2 linked regions of the Homo sapiens genome follow. The protein of the gene in region 1 interacts with the protein of each later gene in a pairwise test. Each region holds a gene or a part of one and is shown in the gene's direction. Other genes may lie near its edges.

Region 1 (4,668 bases):
CTCCCTAGTCTAATGATCCTATTCTTTGTGTAGTATATAGGTTGTTACTTGCTACTTACTTCACCTATGATGATACCATGTTAAAAAGTTTAAGCTGCAATATTTGTTTAAAATAGGTAATTTCGTTCAGGCATTATTTGAGCCTGACCTTGTAGTACTTTTCCTATCATGTGCACTCTGCTCTTTTTTCATTAATAGTATAAAGATTAATTATTTTGTACTCTTCTTGCTCTCCTTACATGCTTTTCATGTTGGAGCTGACTGTTATGGTGAAGAATTCTGGAAAACAAGTGTTTCAGATAAATCTGTAATAGAAATATTAGTGACAGTGTTGGGATTTCATTATTTAGTAAAAGTTGACGATCTGATGAAAATATTTCATTAGAAACAAGTTAGACTTTTTTGGATGTGTGTATTCTTTATTCCTCTGGCCTGTTTTCTGTCTTCCTTTTGGTTTAGAATGATAAAGTACTTTAAACATGGCATAATGTAGGAGAAACAAGCCTCATGGTCTTTGTTCCTAAAATCTCTAAGGAATCTAATTTTATTCAAATTATAGTTTTCTCATTTAGAAAAATGAGGGAAAAGATGATGGTGTTTGTCAATGACTGTGAATTCGGGAGAAGAAAACACTACATCATAAACTCATCTATTTATAGAGCAGTTTCATTGGCTATCTTGTGCAAGTTGAAATCCTTAACATATACTTATTGAACACCAATTACTTGCCAGGCACTGTGCTGAAAGCTGAATTGTTACATAAGAGAATAGATAAGTTATACTTAGATGAAAATATGTTTATGCCATAGCATATAAAGGAGTCTCAGTAGCCCTCATTTTTCTTAATGAGGTCAATTTCTAATTTCAGGGAATTTTTTAAGCAGAAAAGGCAGAACAAGAATGAATTAAATCAAAGGGTATAATATCAAGTTAGTTGCAGTAGGCATTTATTCAATAGTTGCTTTACCAGAGTTTGAATTTTTTTCTTTTTTTTTTTTTAAGGTAACTTGAAAAGCTCAGACAGAAATCCTCCACTCAGTCCTCAGTCCTCTATAGATAGTGAGTTAAGTGCTTCAGAATTAGATGAAGATTCAATTGGATCCAATTATAAGCTAAATGATGTAACTGATGTACAGATTCTAGCCCGGATGCAGGAAGAAAGTAAGTATTCTAATTGTTAAGAGTTGAGGTTTTTTACTATTGCATAATTTTGTTGTATATTAAATATGTCTTAAAGTATTGTGGGGGTAGTAATGTAGTGAAAGTAGAAATGTTGCAGTGGACATTTCAGAGACTTAGTCAACATATGTACATGTTTATTCATCAACTTGTTTTCAGAGTCCATTTTTACATAGAGCAGTTATGCTGTGTGAGGGACAAAGAACAGCATTTATGCTGCTCTGCTTCTATGACTGGTTTTTATACCCTGCATGTTACTCTGCACTAGCACTTAACTCTTGTAATTGTTAGTCTATTACCCTTTGTGTTTTAGTGTAAACCAGCGTTTCTCAATTTTTTTCTTTTCGGTTGCTCCCCTAAGGAGCCTTGTTAAAAACTTCTTTTCCTTTTCTCCCACACTCCCCATGAAATCTTAATACCACAAGATATACTCTATATATGTTTAAGTACTATGAGGGCCATATACAATTATGACATCTAGGAATTTTTTCACACCCCAAGAACCAGTTTTTGCCCTCTTGGGAATGAATATCTCCTCACTTGAGAATACATGGTGTAAACTGTAAAAAAGACCTTTAGGAGAACATTGGAATTGTGACATTAAATTAAATGAAGCATGTGATGGTGCTTTGCAGAGTGAATGATGAAAACTTTTTAGGCCACAGATACCTTTGAGAATCCTTTTATCATCAAAGTGTACATATGCACAAAATTTTTAATACTTTTTAAAGGGTTCATGGCTACTTGCCCTGGTACTCATCTGAAGGTACTTATTCTTGCCAGTGCATTTCATTAGAAGATGCCATCTGCATAACTATGAAGTAAGAAATCTCTCTAAAGCAATCTCTTCAACCTTTACAATGAAAAGAATCCTTGAAATACATATGTTGACAAGTCTTGACAGGTGGCTGAGGTTAATGGAGCATTGCTACGGTTTAGTTCAAAAACTTTCTGTTGTCTGTGTATGTAATAGGTTCTCTTTAAATATGTAGTAGGCTTTATCAAGCTGTAGCATTTATTAAGAAACTAAAGTGTTTCTTATTCTGCTGATTCACTTCCCATTTCCATATAGCTTCCCCTAGGAAGATAGAAGGACTTAGTGCTTGCTTTATTTAGCCCTGCAACCTAATAGCAGAGTACTCTTTTTCTTCTGTAATTTTAATTAACTCCTCAGTGAGACTGTGGTATTGTCAGCTGGTTAGGGGGTGGTTATTGTTGTGGATGTGAAAAAATAAAGAATGCTGCCTAACTCTGTACTTTAGAACAAGTTCTCTCATTTCTTTGAACCCTGGCTTTTTAGATCCTAGTATTTTGTTAGAAGCTCAACCAGCTCTTTGCTTTTGGTTTTGTATTGTGTTTTGGTAACAATAGAAATTTTAGTCTTACTTTAATAATTTTTTCTAAGCCATCCACATGCATGAATATTTATTTTCCTGATGAGTAAAAATAGTAATAAAAATATATGTGATACTTCTTGAAAACTACAGCTTTTTTTTTGTCTTAGAGATGATTTTCCTTTTTACAACATTGTGTTTTGTAATGATTAGAAATGTAGAACTACAGATTTGGGCAGTCACCTGGTCAAGGTCATTCGTTTTTAAGATGAGAAATGCAAGCTCCTATAGTGATCCAACAGTGCTCTTTTCATTGGTCTGTTGTCTTTTGTTAGGTGACTTTAGTGCCATGTTGGCTATAACTAGACACTAAGTAACTTGTTGGTTACTATTTTGGTTCCCCGACTAACTGAAGGGCTAAGTGGACTCCAGGAATTTATAGTTTTAAAGATACCCTAGGGTGATTCTCATCCACTGGTTTGATGAACCGTGTTGATAGCACTTTCTGTGTGTGAATACATGACTTTAGGATTTGAATACCACTTTATAACAGATCTTTTTGACTGGAGTGCTAATAGTTAGCAGGTTGTGCTCAGAATATTACCTAAATTCTATACGTTTGCATTGCAGTTTGTTTCTTCATTGACTATGTTACGTATCAACTTTTTTTTCTGTTGTTCTAGAAGCATCTGTACTATTTGAAGGGCTCCCAAGGTTGCTTGGGTGTTTTCGAAGGTATCAAGCTATATAGGAGAATTCTTTGAAAATTCTTACTTGAAGACTTAGAATTTAAGCTTGAAAACAAGCTTAAAACAATAAAAATGGAAGTCTCTTGGGTAGTGAAGCAATCAAGATTTCGTTTGTGCCCAAGTACTGAATTCCTATAAGTGGGTTAGAAGTTTCTTTGGTACTTTATCATCTTCATGAGTAAGATTATTTCAGTAATTAAGTATCCAAGAAGTTTTATTTACTCACATACGTATTCTTTTTCCACTGGTTGGATGGTAATTGTTTCCCCTCAATATTCCTTTAATATTAGTCTCAAATTTGGATTACTGTCTTTAGGGGTAGAAATATTTTTAAATTTATGATTCTACCATGTGAGACAGATTTCAGCTTTAAGAAGAAATCTGGAAATTGGGCAGTGGTTTATGGGATTTCATTCAATTTAAAAATAACCTTCAGATGTGATTTATGCCTCCTTATATGGACATATAAGCCTATATAAGTCTAAAAGCAGAAAGGGAGTTTTCTTTTACACTTTACACCCTCTTTGAATTTTTCAGTGATAATCTTTTACTTTAAATTTTAAAATTATTTAAATGTTTAAAAATATTGTTTAAATAAATAACATTCATTGTTGCCAGGTCTCCGGCAAGAATATGCAGCCACCACGTCTCGGCGCAGTTCTGGTTCATCTTGCAATTCTACAAGACGGGGTACTTTTAGTGATCAGGAACTTGATGCACAAAGTTTAGATGATGAAGATGACAATATGCATCATGCAGTATACCCTGCTGTTAACAGGTTTTCACCATCACCACGCAATTCACCTCGACCGTCACCTAAGCAGTCACCCAGAAATTCACCTCGTTCACGATCTCCTGCTCGGGGAATAGAATATAGTAGAGTGTCCCCACAGCCTATGATTAGCCGCTTACAGCAACCTCGCCTTTCACTTCAAGGCCATCCCACAGATTTACAGACAAGCAATGTTAAAAATGAAGGTAAAATAGCAGATTTTACTAATAATTAGACAGTTTCTGCTAGCCTGTGTAACATAGCAAGACCCCGTCTCTAGGAAAAAAATTTTCAAAATTAGCTGGGCATGGTGGTGCACATCTATAGTCCTAGTGACTTGAGAGGCTGAGGCTGGAGGATTGGTTGAGCCCAGGAGTTCAAAGCTACAGTGAGCTGTGATCACACCATTACACTCCAGTCTGGGCAACAGAGCAGGATCCTGTTTTCAAAAAAAAAAAAAAAAAAAAAGTTTCTAGATTAAAAAAAGAGAAAAAGTGTCCTTTATATTTCACTATGAAAGTAATACAATTTTTGCTAAGTTTTTGTATTTCAGATAAGTAAATCAAGAGTGTAGTCAGGTTTACTATTTTATTAATAGTGAATCATTACAAAAATAAAAGAGAAAGTGAATTTC
Region 2 (5,463 bases), on another chromosome or scaffold:
ACGTTAAATTTAACCCGACTAATTATACTTTTAGGTTTATGGTTGTATATGATACTAATTTACATTTTCAAGAGGTTTTACAATTTACAAAGCAGTTAAATCCTTTCAACTGCTCTGAGATAAGGTAGCACTTTTTTTTTTTTTTTTTTTTTTTTTTTTTTTGAGACGGAGTCTTGCTCTGTCGCCCAGGCTGGAGTGCGGTGGCGCGATCTCGGCTCACTGCAAGCTCCGCCTCCCGGGTTCACGCCATTCTCCTGCCTCAGCCTCCGGAGTAGCTGGGACTACAGGCGCCCGCCACCACGCCCGGCTAATTTTTTGTATTTTTAGCAGAGACGGGGTTTCACTGTGTTAGCCAGGATGGTCTCGCTCTCCTGACCTCGTGATCCGCCCGCCTCGGCCTTCCAAAGTGCTGGCATTACAGGCGTGAGCCACCGCGCCCGGCTAGCACTTTTTTTTTTAAAGAGGTCTTGGTATTCATGTCTTGATAAATGTTTTAGCATCTCTTCTACCTCTGATTTTCCTGTCTCCCTTTTCTATTTGTTTTGGTTTTGAAGCTGTAACTACAAAATGTGTCCATTGGGAAGAGAGCAATATTAATGTATTTGAACAAAAGGGCCCATTGATTGAAACCATCATAAAAATATATGGGATGCTGTTTAACTCCATTTTACAAATAAGGAAACAGAAGCCCAGAGAGATTAAGTAGTTTGGCCAAGATTAAATAACCATTAAATGGCACAGTCACTACAAGGTTCATTTAAAAAAACATATAACATACATTGAGCATTTAATGTGTCAGGCTGGGTAAACAAGATATAGTGCTAGTTAACTCCTAGGTAAGCATAAATTTCTATAACCAGTATATTACTTTGTAAACCACTGTCTTCTGGAATTTTAGCAGCTGGACAATCAGTAAATACTTTTCTACTTACACAAGATTCATGTAACCAGATCTGTTTGGAGACTGATCGTGATTTATATTAGACTAAAAGATCTTAACTCAAAAGCATGTTTTGCATCATTTGTCTAGATTCTTTAAAGTAAAAATGGAAAGCTGTAATTCTCAAATGTCTTCGAATGAACAAAAAATTGACAAGAATATGAAGCTGACTGCATTACTGTATCATCAATTATTGGAACCTTGATTTAACAAGCTATTTTCATTTTCAGTCCAATGGCATACAAAGAGGAAATTTTATTCTTTGTAGTTTCTCCAAATTCTTTGTAAAAATTATGAAAGTAATTTGCGAAAAATAAGCGAATTGACATGGAATATAAGGTGAATAATACATTTTTAAAATGTAGTTGTGTATAATGGAAAACGTCATTCTTGTATATTCAGCTAAAACAGACCATTAGTGCAAGACCTAAATATTAATGAGATCCGGGGTTTGCAACGAAATGTCATTGCTGCTTTTCCCCCAGAAAGTTAAAAGAAAAACGGGGAGAGCTTTTAAGTGAAAACTAAATGTGCTGGCGTCACACTTGGAAATGCAAGGATGCAGAAGAAATGGTAAGATGTGGGTGGGTAGTATCCCAGTAAACAACATAAACCTTCTAACAGACTTGAGGTGGCTGTCAAGCCTTTCAGACATGTGATTGATAATGAATGTCAGAGGAGAGTTTCCTTTTCCATCAACGCTTCAGGAGACAGCGGACCGCCACCAACACAGGGCGGAAGAGCACCCCTGTCACGCAGACTGTGCCGCCCCCGGCTCGCCTGGGCACGCCCCTTCCTGCCCTAGCAGCGGCGTCCCGCCCTTTCCGCCTTTCACTTCCTAGTAACCGCCCTCCCTTGCTCCATCTTCGCAGGACCCGATTGGCTGATGGGGCAACCGCCAACGGCTGTGGCGTTTAAACCCAAGCCGCAGCCGCTGCTGCTCGCCGAGCTCCCGGAGCTGGGTGGGGGTGCCCCACGCTGAAAGAGAGGTAAGTTAGTGGCCTGCGGCAGTTGACGTGACCGCCCTCTCCCTGTCGGGATCGGTGTCGTTCTTGAGTCGGTTCTCTAGGCGCTGTCCGCCTCGGTCTCCGGCTCGTCTTCCGCCCTCTGTCCTCCGGGATCCGGGACGGCGGCCCCTCTCCGGCTACGAGGGGTTCGTTGACGGAGTCCTGTTTTGGCTTTGAGTCGCTGCCTCTTGTTTCTGAGATTTGAGCGTCCGGCAGGGCGAGCGGGGAGAGCCACCAGTTAGGTCAGCTACTTAAGGGAAGATATTTCTGTCTCTGGGACTGCTCTACTCCCTTGAACAGTTTCTAGGGCATTGTGAGCGCTCAGTACGTGTCTGCGGAATGAATGTTAGGGACTGCGTGCCAAAGTTCTCGAAGGAGCCCTCTCGTTTGGAGAGGCTGGCTGAAGGCGAAGGGGTGATGGAAGACTAGGGAGAACTTGGAACTTAGAACTTGAGCTGCTTGATGTACAGGTAGGATTTCAGTAGAGAATAGGGACAATGATTTTTTAGATGAGGTATCCAATTCAGGAGAATTGGATGTGGAACTGAGTATTTCGTATTTAGAGATAGTCGAGATGCTGGCCGGACAAGTGTCACAGAGTGCTGGTATTGAGTGCTGATAGTTTACCAGGTCCCGTACTAGACACTGTACATACATTGGCTCATTTAGTCCCTACAAGGAGATGCCCTTATTTTTTATGGTTTTATAAATCTGGAAATTGAGACGAAGAGGTGTTGAGATCACATAGCTATGAAACGTTGGAACTGGAGCTCCAACACAGTTGTAATCACTATCATAATGTCTCAGTGTCTATATGGTAAATCACCCTGGAACAGTACCCCAAATGCCTGGTTCTGGCTCCTAAAGTTTCCCTTGGTGAGGTCATTGATGTAGGGGGTTGCAGGGCAGTGTCAAGGAACACTCCCAGATTTCTGGCATGAGGATTTGAATAGGCGATTGACAGTGTCGTTTATTAAATTAAGGAATTGTGTCAGAACCAGCTTATTGGGGAGGGCAGTCCAGCTGTGGTTTCCTAATTAGTAAAGTGAGATTTGATATTCCAGACTGGATTTTTTGGGAGATGAACTAGATTTCTATGTTAGGATCCCTTTCAGGTGTGTGAGATGCAACAGTTTGTGGGGAGTTTCTGTGTTCTACTGTCTTTGAGATAGATAGTGATCTTTGATTTTAAAGTTTCTTCCTGGCAAAACGTTTAAAAGAACTGTTGAGCCTTAATCTTGAAAGGTTTCTGGTTCAACTTATTCCCCATTGCAGAAATTTCTTCTAAAACCATCTTTCCGTTATTTGCTTGACACCTCCCAACATCTGCTTAACACTTTCAAAGGAGACCCATTCCAAGAGTGGGCGGTTTTTCTATTGGAAAGTTCTTCCATTCATTCATAGTCACTTCTTCCACAAATGTTTATCCAGCAGCTGCTATGTGGCAGGCACATTTCTGTACTAAGGTACAGAAGCAAACAAATTTGACAAAAGTTTATGCCCTCATTGAACTTACAATTTAGTAGGAGAAAACAGATAATAAGTTAACTATTTAATTTTATCTTAGACATTGATAAGTTAACGGAGAAAAATAAAACAGAAGGGGAGAATGGGGGTAAGTGTGCAGTTTTTAAGTAGTTTGGACTGGGAAGGCTCACTAAGAAAGTGACATTTTGGCAAATGCTCGAAGGAAGTGAGCAAGCCCTGTGGTCATTTGAAGGAAGAGTTGATACAAAGGGAAGAAGGAATAAAAGTTTCTGCTTTAGAGCATGTCAAGGTAGGCAGTGTGGCCAGAGATTATTGAGCAAGAGAAAGATTAATGAAAAGGATTAGAAAGGTTCACTGATGATTAATTGGGGAAGAGAAGTGTCAAATTGTATAGTACTTTCTAGGCCATTTTAAAGATTGAGTGAGATGGAAAGCTACTGGAGAGTTTTTTTTAACATGGGAGTAACATGAATTTACTTAAGCTTTAAAAGGATCATTGTGGTTGCTAGGTTAAGAATAGATAGTCGGGGAGAAAATGGAAGCAGGGACACCATTCACGTAGCTATAGCAAATAATGTACATGGGAGAGAATGGCAACTTGAATCAAAGTGGTAGCAGTAGAAATAGTGGTAAGTAGCCCAGGTGGATATATTGTGAAAGCTGGGTCAGCATAATTGATCATAGAATAGATGTGGGATATGAAAGGAACTTTCTGACCTGAGCAACTGAAAGAATGGAGTTGTCATTAAGTGAGCTAGGGAGGACATGGTGGAGTAGGTTGGGGTGGGGGGAGTTTAGGACATGTTAAATTTGAGATGTGTGTTAGAAATCCTAGTTGGAGATGCGTAGTAGGCAGTTGGATGAATAAATCTGGAGTTCAAGGGAAAAGTCTAGATTGGGAACACAAATTTGAGAGTTATCAGCATTTAGATTTAAAAGCCAGGATACTGGCTGATAGTCCAGGGAGTATATGTAAATATAAAAGAGATGAGATCCAAGGACTGAGATCTGGGGCACTCCAGTGGTAAGAGGTTAGGGAGATGAAGAATAACCAGCAAGAGGGACTGAGAAGTGGTCAGCGAGGCAGGAGAAAATCCTGCCTCAGAACAAACAGAAGAATGTGCTATTTTGCAACCAAGTGAAGAGCGTATTTCAAAAGGAAGGAATGACTTGATATTAAATGCTTTTCACAGATCAAGTAAAAAGAGACTGGGCCTGACCACAGTATTTGATTTAACAACATAGTAATTCAGTGACCTTAATGAACAGTTCCCATATAGTAGTGGTGAGAGCAGAAATTTCATTGTAGTGGATCAAGAGAGACTGGGAGGAGATAAATTGGAGACATCAAGTATAGACAACTCTCTAAAGGAGTTTTGCTGTGAAGGGAAGCAGGGAAATCAGGTCATAGCATTCCAGCATCAAGGGACCACTTGTATTTTCTTAAATGTTTCATTTTCATGCATTTACACATGCCATTCTTTCTTCCTGGAATGCCCTTCCTAATCTTGATGCCTGACAAGTTTTTAGTTTCTAAGACTTACTTATTCATTCAACAAATATTTACTGTGTTGATATCATTTGTAAGGCGCTATTCCATGCGCTGGGGAATATATCAGTGAATAAAACATAAAAATCCATGACCTCCTAGAATTTAAATTCTAGTTGGGGAAGACAGACAATAAATAAATCTATAGTATGTTAGATAGTGATAGATGTTGAGGGAAGGAGCTACAGTTTTGTTTCGTTTTGTTTTGTTTTGTTTTTTGTTTTTTTGTTTTTGAGACGGAGTCTCACTCTGTCACCCAGGCTGGAGTGCCATGGTTTGATCTCACTCAGCTCACTGCAGCCTCCACCTCCTGGGTTCAAGCATTTCTCCTGCCTCAGCCTCCTGAGTACCTGGGATTACGGGCACCTGCCACCACACCTAACTAATTTTTTTGTATTTTTAGTAGAGACGGGTTTCACCATGTTGGCTGGGCTGGTCTCGAACTCCTGACCTCAGGTGATCCACCCACCTCAGCCTCC

Evidence for each region. Proteins that work in one complex are often made in the same cells at the same time.
Region 2: the proteins of SLAIN2 (region 1) and SGO2 interact in a two-hybrid assay, tested with the Homo sapiens proteins (one large-scale study listed by BioGRID).

What each region holds. Positions count from the first base shown.
Region 1 is NC_000004.12:48,378,688-48,383,355, forward strand, and holds part of SLAIN2 (SLAIN motif-containing protein 2), read left to right. Parts: intron 1-1,002; coding exon 1,003-1,161; intron 1,162-3,880; coding exon 3,881-4,240; intron 4,241-4,668.
Region 2 is NC_000002.12:200,524,324-200,529,786, forward strand, and holds the start of SGO2 (shugoshin 2), read left to right. Parts: upstream 1-1,883; 5' UTR 1,884-1,929; exon of another isoform or gene 1,930-2,417; intron 2,418-5,463. UniProt on the Homo sapiens protein: Cooperates with PPP2CA to protect centromeric cohesin from separase-mediated cleavage in oocytes specifically during meiosis I. Has a crucial role in protecting REC8 at centromeres from cleavage by separase.